2 linked regions of the Homo sapiens genome follow. The protein of the gene in region 1 purifies or fractionates together with the protein of each later gene. This does not show direct contact. Each region holds a gene or a part of one and is shown on either strand. Other genes may lie near its edges.

Evidence for each region.
Region 2: the proteins of ZNF350 (region 1) and CDK8 purify together in Homo sapiens (affinity purification with mass spectrometry; one large-scale study listed by BioGRID and IntAct). This does not show direct contact.

What each region holds. Positions count from the first base shown.
Region 1 is NC_000019.10:51,966,717-51,970,045, forward strand, and holds part of ZNF350 (zinc finger protein 350), read right to left. Parts: intron 2,416-3,329; coding exon 2,289-2,415; intron 1,958-2,288; coding exon 1,862-1,957; intron 685-1,861; coding exon of another isoform or gene 559-684; exon of another isoform or gene 542-558; intron 524-541; exon of another isoform or gene 454-523; intron 1-453. UniProt on the Homo sapiens protein: Transcriptional repressor. Binds to a specific sequence, 5'-GGGxxxCAGxxxTTT-3', within GADD45 intron 3.
Region 2 is NC_000013.11:26,400,629-26,404,457, forward strand, and holds part of CDK8 (cyclin-dependent kinase 8), read left to right. Parts: intron 1-640; coding exon 641-719; intron 720-837; coding exon 838-996; intron 997-3,327; coding exon 3,328-3,453; 3' UTR 3,454-3,829.

The sequences.
Region 1 (3,329 bases):
GGCTCACTGCAACCTCCACCTCCTGAGTTCAAGCGATTCTCCTGCCTCAGCCTCCCGAGTAGCTGGGATTACAGGCATGCACCACCGCACCCAGCTAATTCTGTATATTTAGTAGAGACGGCGTTTCACCATGTTAGCCAGGCTGATCTCGAACTCCCGACCTCAGGTGATCTGCCCGCTTCAGTCTCCCAAAGTTCTGGGATTACAGGTGTGAGCCGCTGCACCCGGCCCCAAAGTATTCTTTTTTTTAATGCCTTGATGTGAGGTGTCTCTTAGTAATAACCCTATGACCTGAGTGTAAATAAAACTCCATGTTTAATGTTCCTTGCACATTGGCAAAAAGTAATAGTATAAACAAACTAAAAGGTGAAAGCAGTTAGCATAAAACAAGGTTAGATCACTAATAATAAAGACAGATTTGGCTGCTTTCTAAATGTGCCTTGCAAAACAGACCTTAAAATACAAGCAATTCACTGTGACCAGCAGACCAGAGGCTGGAGGCCCATTTCGTCCAAAGAACAGATTCATTCATTCCACATACTCTTACTGAATGATCACCGTGTGCCAGGTATGGTGCTGGTGTTGGGGATAGGCACAAGAATCGCTTGAATCCAGGAGGTGGAGGTTGCGGTGAGCCAAGTTCACACCATTGCGCTCCAGCCTGGGCACAGAGCAAGACTCTGTCTTAAAAAAAAAATAAATTAATAAAAATAAATAATAATAATGAATAATTTTTAAGGGAATGAGTCAGGGAAGTAATCATATGTGTGGAACACACCAGGCAGGGTTTAGGAAAGAGGATGGAAATCTCTTTGTGAGCAAGATGGTATTATATCACAGAGATCACTGAAATGAGAAATTTGACAGGTAACATGGTTTACTGGGACTTGGTGTCATCAGAATACGATGGGGAAAAAAACGAAAGCAAATTATTAAATACAGAAAGGAACCAAATGGAAGTAGGCGGGAGTTGAGAATGTAGGATGTTAAAAAAATGACTTTTTTACTTAGAGATGCATCATGACTAGCAGAGACCTTTAAAGAAGAGAGCTCTTCAGGCAGGTAATACCCAGATGGCCAAGATTCAGGATGTACAGGAACAAACGAAAATCCAAACTTAATGGTTTTCTTGGAGGAAAGATGATTCTAGTTCCTTGCAGTTACTAGGAACTCAGGGGAGAGTTGCCATGAAGTAAATTACACAGAACTAAAATCTGTGTTAGATAACAACAGGGAGATGTCAGTTTGGGACTCTCCTCCAGGGAGCGGAAGGAGTTTAAACTTACTAGAATGAAGGCAATTTTGAAGAGTGAAGGGCACAGATGAGAAAATGGAGAACGGGACCTTTGGAGAACCTAAGAATAAGGAAAAAGAGAAGCGAAGGAAGCCAAGGCACAGCGAAAGTCCAGTTTACCCTGAGGAAGCCACATCCATCACAGGGGAGGTGTTAGGAGGGGAGGTCAGCATTAGCCAAGGGGCACAAAGGGGTGGGAGTCCGAAAACAGTGAGGACTTCAAAGTTTCCTCTTTGGAAAGAGGCCTGGAAGGTGGAATTTCGTAACAAGAGAGGTGGAACAACATGAAGAAGGGAAATACTTGAAACCCGAGGAAGAAGAAAATTATGCAGGCAAACAAACAATATGTAGATAAAATAATCAGATCTCTGAGGAGATAAAGAGTTTTTGTTTTGTTTTGTTTTTTTTTAACTCTAAATTCCTACAAAGAAAAACTGGTCTCACACTGGGAGACAGATGAGTAGAGGAACTGTTTACATATCCTCAAACCCCCTTCACAGCTGTGCTGCCTTCTCTGACTGTCTAGAATGTGACTTCCATAGCCTTCTGTCTTGTGGGTTCTCTCACCTGAACAGGCTCCACTGTGGATTCCATCTTCAATTGTCCACAGTTGTTCTCCTTGTTCCAACTTGAAGAGTGCATCCGGTTTGCTGGCTTGATACCCTGTTCATGGAAAATGATAGAGGACTTAGACATATCAAATTGGGCTGGCAATGTCAAGAAGGAAGAATGTTACATTTCAAGAAACTTGAGTTTCTTAAAATACCCAAAATTTAGTTTCTTATCTGAAACTATGAAAGTTTCGTTTCATATCTGTAACATCAAGGTTTTTCTCTTACAAGAGGGTAGATTACACCGTCTTGTGTGGGAGCAAGAGAAGGATCTGAGAATCTACCACTTCAGAGTACTGCAGGCATTCCAAAGAGGTAGGCATCTGAGAAAGGAAGGCCACTGACTAGGCACCCTCTGAGTGACACAGGGCAGCTGTCCTCACCCACTGCCACCAGGTTGCTGTAGTTCTCCAACATCACATCCCGGTACAGGTCCTTCTGAGCAGCGCCCAGGAGTTGCCACTCCTCCCAAGTGAAGTCCACAGCCACATCCTCCAGTGTTATGGATTCCTGTAATAACAGTCCTGTTTAATAAAGTGATGTCTTTTTGATGATGTGGAAGAAATGCTAAAGTTTTTCTGCTCATTTCCACTCTACAGGCTGTGTGCATATACCAAATAGTTTTTTTTTTAATACAATGTGGAAGAAGTAAAGTCCTAATATAATATTCTGTAACTGTATATTCAGTCATCCTCCATTCACCCAATTGGAAGTTTCTATAAAGTGTAGAAGTTAAATCTTGCTAACCTAAAAACAATATATTTATACATTTTATATATGTAAATATATATGAATATATGTACATATATTTATTTTAGATACATGCAAATGAAAGACATATATACAGCCATCCTTTAGTATCTGTAGGGTATTGGTTCCAGGACCTCCTGAGGATACTGAGGTGTCTGATATAAAATGGCACAGTATTGGTCAGGCACAGTAGATCACACCTGTAATCCCAGCACTTTCGGAGGCCAAGGCAGGAGGGTCACTCGAGCCCAGGAGTTCAAGACCAGCCTGGGCAACATGAGACCCCATCTGTACAAAAAATTAAAAAATTAGCTAGGCACAGTGGTGAGTGCCTGTGGTCCCAGCTACTTGGGAGGCTGAGGCAGGAGGCTCATTTGAGCCTAGGAGTTAGAGACTACACTGAGTTATGACCATGCTACTGCACTGCAGCCTAAGCAACAGAGCAAGACTGTCTCTAATAAAATAAAATAAAATGGAATAGTACTTGCAGATTTGCATGTAACCCATGCACATCCTCCCATATACATTTCTGTTTTTTTGAAATGGAGACTCACTCTCTTTCCCAGGCTGGGGTGCAGTGGCATAATCTCAGCTCACTGCAACCTCCGCCTCCCAGGAGCAGGCAATTCTTCTGCCCCAGCCTCCCAAGTAGCTAGGACTACAGGCATGTGACA
Region 2 (3,829 bases), on another chromosome or scaffold:
TTGCTCCTCCTCTTATATGGGAACCCAAGGAAATCCTTTATGACAAGCAAAAATGAGCTTTGCTGATTAAAGTGTCATTTAGGGGCTTTCCAGTTAAGAGGCATTCCTGTTCATCTCTTGCTTTATGAAATGCTGATCACATTAGTTTCAGTAGTGATCCAGCTATTCAGTGACAGGTTGGTTATGCGTGCTGTAGCTCCTTACTGTCTGCAGTTACAGTTTCATGTTCCAAAATTGCAAATATTCCCAAATGTGTTCCCTATACCATCTTTTGTTTTGTTAATAAATGTAGTAGGAAGGGTAAAACAAAAATTACCTTTGAATGGTGACACATACTTCAGCTAGAATCTATATTTGGTCTGTATTAATAGAAGAGTAATGCTGGGATAAAAGAAGAAAGCTGAATCATACTCGATGATTATTGATCATTTGTATACAGCTCAAGCCCTCAAGTAGCCTGCTGTAATATTACTAGTTACAAAGAAAAGATTCGTTTTGTCACAGTTACATGAAAGGTGCTTATATTTGCAAATATGGAGACAAAGTTCATCTTAAAAGATTAAAATGAGAATCTCCTAAATGAAGCATTTGGAATATTGATTAGTATACCAGAAATGGTTTTTCTTTTTCTTATGATCAGCGTTTTTGCCGGTTGTCAAATCCCTTACCCAAAACGAGAATTTTTAACGGAAGAAGAACCTGATGACAAAGGAGACAAAGTAAGTATTAAAGTACTGTTAGCAGCTTCTTGTTTCGTGAATGCCTCCATAACATTTTCCATTGTGGGTATATTTTGTTCTCCCTCTGAGCTGAACTTTTTCTGTTTAACCAATTGAGAAGAACCAGCAGCAGCAGCAGGGCAATAACCACACTAATGGAACTGGCCACCCAGGGAATCAAGACAGCAGTCACACACAGGGACCCCCGTTGAAGAAAGTGAGAGTTGTTCCTCCTACCACTACCTCAGGTGGACTTATCATGACCTCAGACTATCAGGTATTCCAAGTTTATTTTGTATTGACTGCATGTCAGTGTTTACATATGGGTTTATGATCGTGGGAAAATGTGATTTAATTGAGAAATACTGACGTCTGTATACCCAGGGAAATACATTAACATGAAATGTTACTGGCATGGAAAAGTACTGACAGTGGTATGGTAGCAAGGGTTTAGACTTTTGAACCAGACTTGGAATGATCAAATACAAATTATGCCATTTATTAACTGTGTGACCTTGGACAAGTAGGATAATATCTCCTGGCGTTTTTTCATCTGTAAAATGAAACTAGTAAAACCTAACTTGCAGCTGTTGTCAGATTAGACATGAAGTGGCTTGACACCTAGCTTATGGTAGGAGCTTGATAGCTATTGTTTTGGAACAATGTTTCACAGTGATTAAGAACATAGGCTTTCAGATCCCAGTCTGGCCACTTACTTCTCTGTATCCTTGAGTAAGTGATTCAGATGTTCTCAGTTTCCATTTGTAGACTGGATAATGATCAATGTGAAGCTGTAGTAAGGATTAAATGAGATAACTCTGGGAGGTTAAGTGTTGCAGCCATTTCAGGAAACTGAGGCTTGTAGAGGTTAAATAACTTTCACATGGATCCCCAGCAAGCTGTAGATGCAGGACTCATATTTGATCTGACCACAAAGGCTGTTATGTTGCCTGCTTAGGGATCCTATCATGGCATTGTCAGTTACGTTGTGGAAAGACCCTCTTTGAAAATTGTATACCACCTCCTTTTCTCTTCTGCTTATTCTAACCATATTCCCAACTACACAAGGGTTCAGTGTGGGAAGGATACTGAAAATCTGACCAATTAGAATTATTTACACACAAAAAAAAAGAGAGAGAGAAAGAGATGTTATTAAACTGATAAGGTCCCGAGTGCTCGTTACTGTACTTTCAGAATTAGGTATTAACTCTTTCTTTTGGTTAGGGGAGAAGTCCAGCCCATCACACCATGGAAATCACTGTTGTGTGAGTAGTAATTCTCTTCCAGTTAGCTAAACAAGGACACCAAGGGCAGACAGCTGTGGGAGTTGTTGGTTCCAGTATCTTTTTCTTCCTTTCCGGATGGGAAGAGTGCATCTCTCTTGGCCCACAAATGTGTTTGCACACTAAGGTGATGGCATCCTTAGAAGGAAGCAGAGCAGTGCTCTGACCTTCGCTTCTGGAACCGAGAAAATGATGCCATGCTGCTTTGTTGGTGTGATTGTTGTTGGTTTTTTGTGGATGAATTTTAAAATAGTATTTGTGACTATCATTTCATGTGTCCACTCTTTTTAAAAATGTTACCTTTTCTAGGATTGGCAGAATTTGGAATTATATGTCTTATTAAATATGCTTTGAAAGACAGAAGTAATAAGTTCTGGTTAATCTTTTATAGTGTTTGTCTTGGGAGCAAATAGTATGAGAGAGAGGTGTGAGAATGGGAATAATAATCTAACATATCAAAATTAGAGAACCCCAAACCATCACATTCTTTCTCTTTGTGCCATTTTAGAATTGAGAATACCGTCCTTCTTACTGTGGTTATATTTTTACTTTTGTATATAAACTTGTAGCAGAAAATAAGATTCAGTAGCTTAAAGGGGCCAGGCACTGTGGCTCATGCCCGTAATCCCAGTGGTTTAGAAGGCTGAGGGGAAGGATCACTTGAGGCCTGGAGTTTGAAATCAACCTGGGCAACATAGCAAGACTCTGTTCCTTCAAAAAAAATTTTTAAAAATTAGCTGAGCATGGAGGTGCATGCCTATAATCCTAGCAATGATTATACCATTACACTCCAGCCTGGATGATAGAGTGACACCCTGTCTCAAAAGAAAAAAAAAATAGTTTAAAGGGCATAAAAATGTATTAATGCCAAAGAAATGGATTCTGTGATACCTTCTCCTATCATACTCACTTTTACTCTTCAGTCATGTGTGTGGGGGTGAGTTTTCTACTGAAGAAAGCATGTAAATAAGCTTTGAATTTTTTATGTATACATCATTAAGTTTCTGGGTAAACATCTCAAGCAAATTTACCAAGTAGATACAAAACAGCATAAAAAGGGGTTACTCCTGTAGAAAAAAATGTATTTGCACAGCATAGTAATAAGCCTAGGCTTAATATTATTTACTAGCAATATTTCTGACCTTCCTCAAGAGAAGAGGATGTTAAAATATTTGGGGTTTTTGTCTTTAATTATAAAGTTAGTACATAGCACAAAACCTATACATCCTTTCTTCCTTGAAACATAATGACACTTCAGTCACATATTGGGATTGAGCTTCCCCTAGAAGCACCTGAATCACACTTTTCCCTCATCTCCTTTCCAGCGTTCCAATCCACATGCTGCCTATCCCAACCCTGGACCAAGCACATCACAGCCGCAGAGCAGCATGGGATACTCAGCTACCTCCCAGCAGCCTCCACAGTACTCACATCAGACACATCGGTACTGAGCTGCATCGGAATCTTGTCCATGCACTGTTGCGAATGCTGCAGGGCTGACTGTGCAGCTCTCTGCGGGAACCTGGTATGGGCCATGAGAATGTACTGTACAACCACATCTTCAAAATGTCCAGTAGCCAAGTTCCACCACTTTTCACAGATTGGGGTAGTGGCTTCCAAGTTGTACCTATTTTGGAGTTAGACTTGAAAAGAAAGTGCTAGCACAGTTTGTGTTGTGGATTTGCTACTTCCATAGTTTACTTGACATGGTTCAGACTGACCAATGCATTTTTTTCAGTGACAGTCTGTAGCAGTTGAAGCTGTGAATGTGCTAGGGGCAAGCATTTGTCTTTGTATGTGGTGAATTTTTTCAGTGTAACAACATTA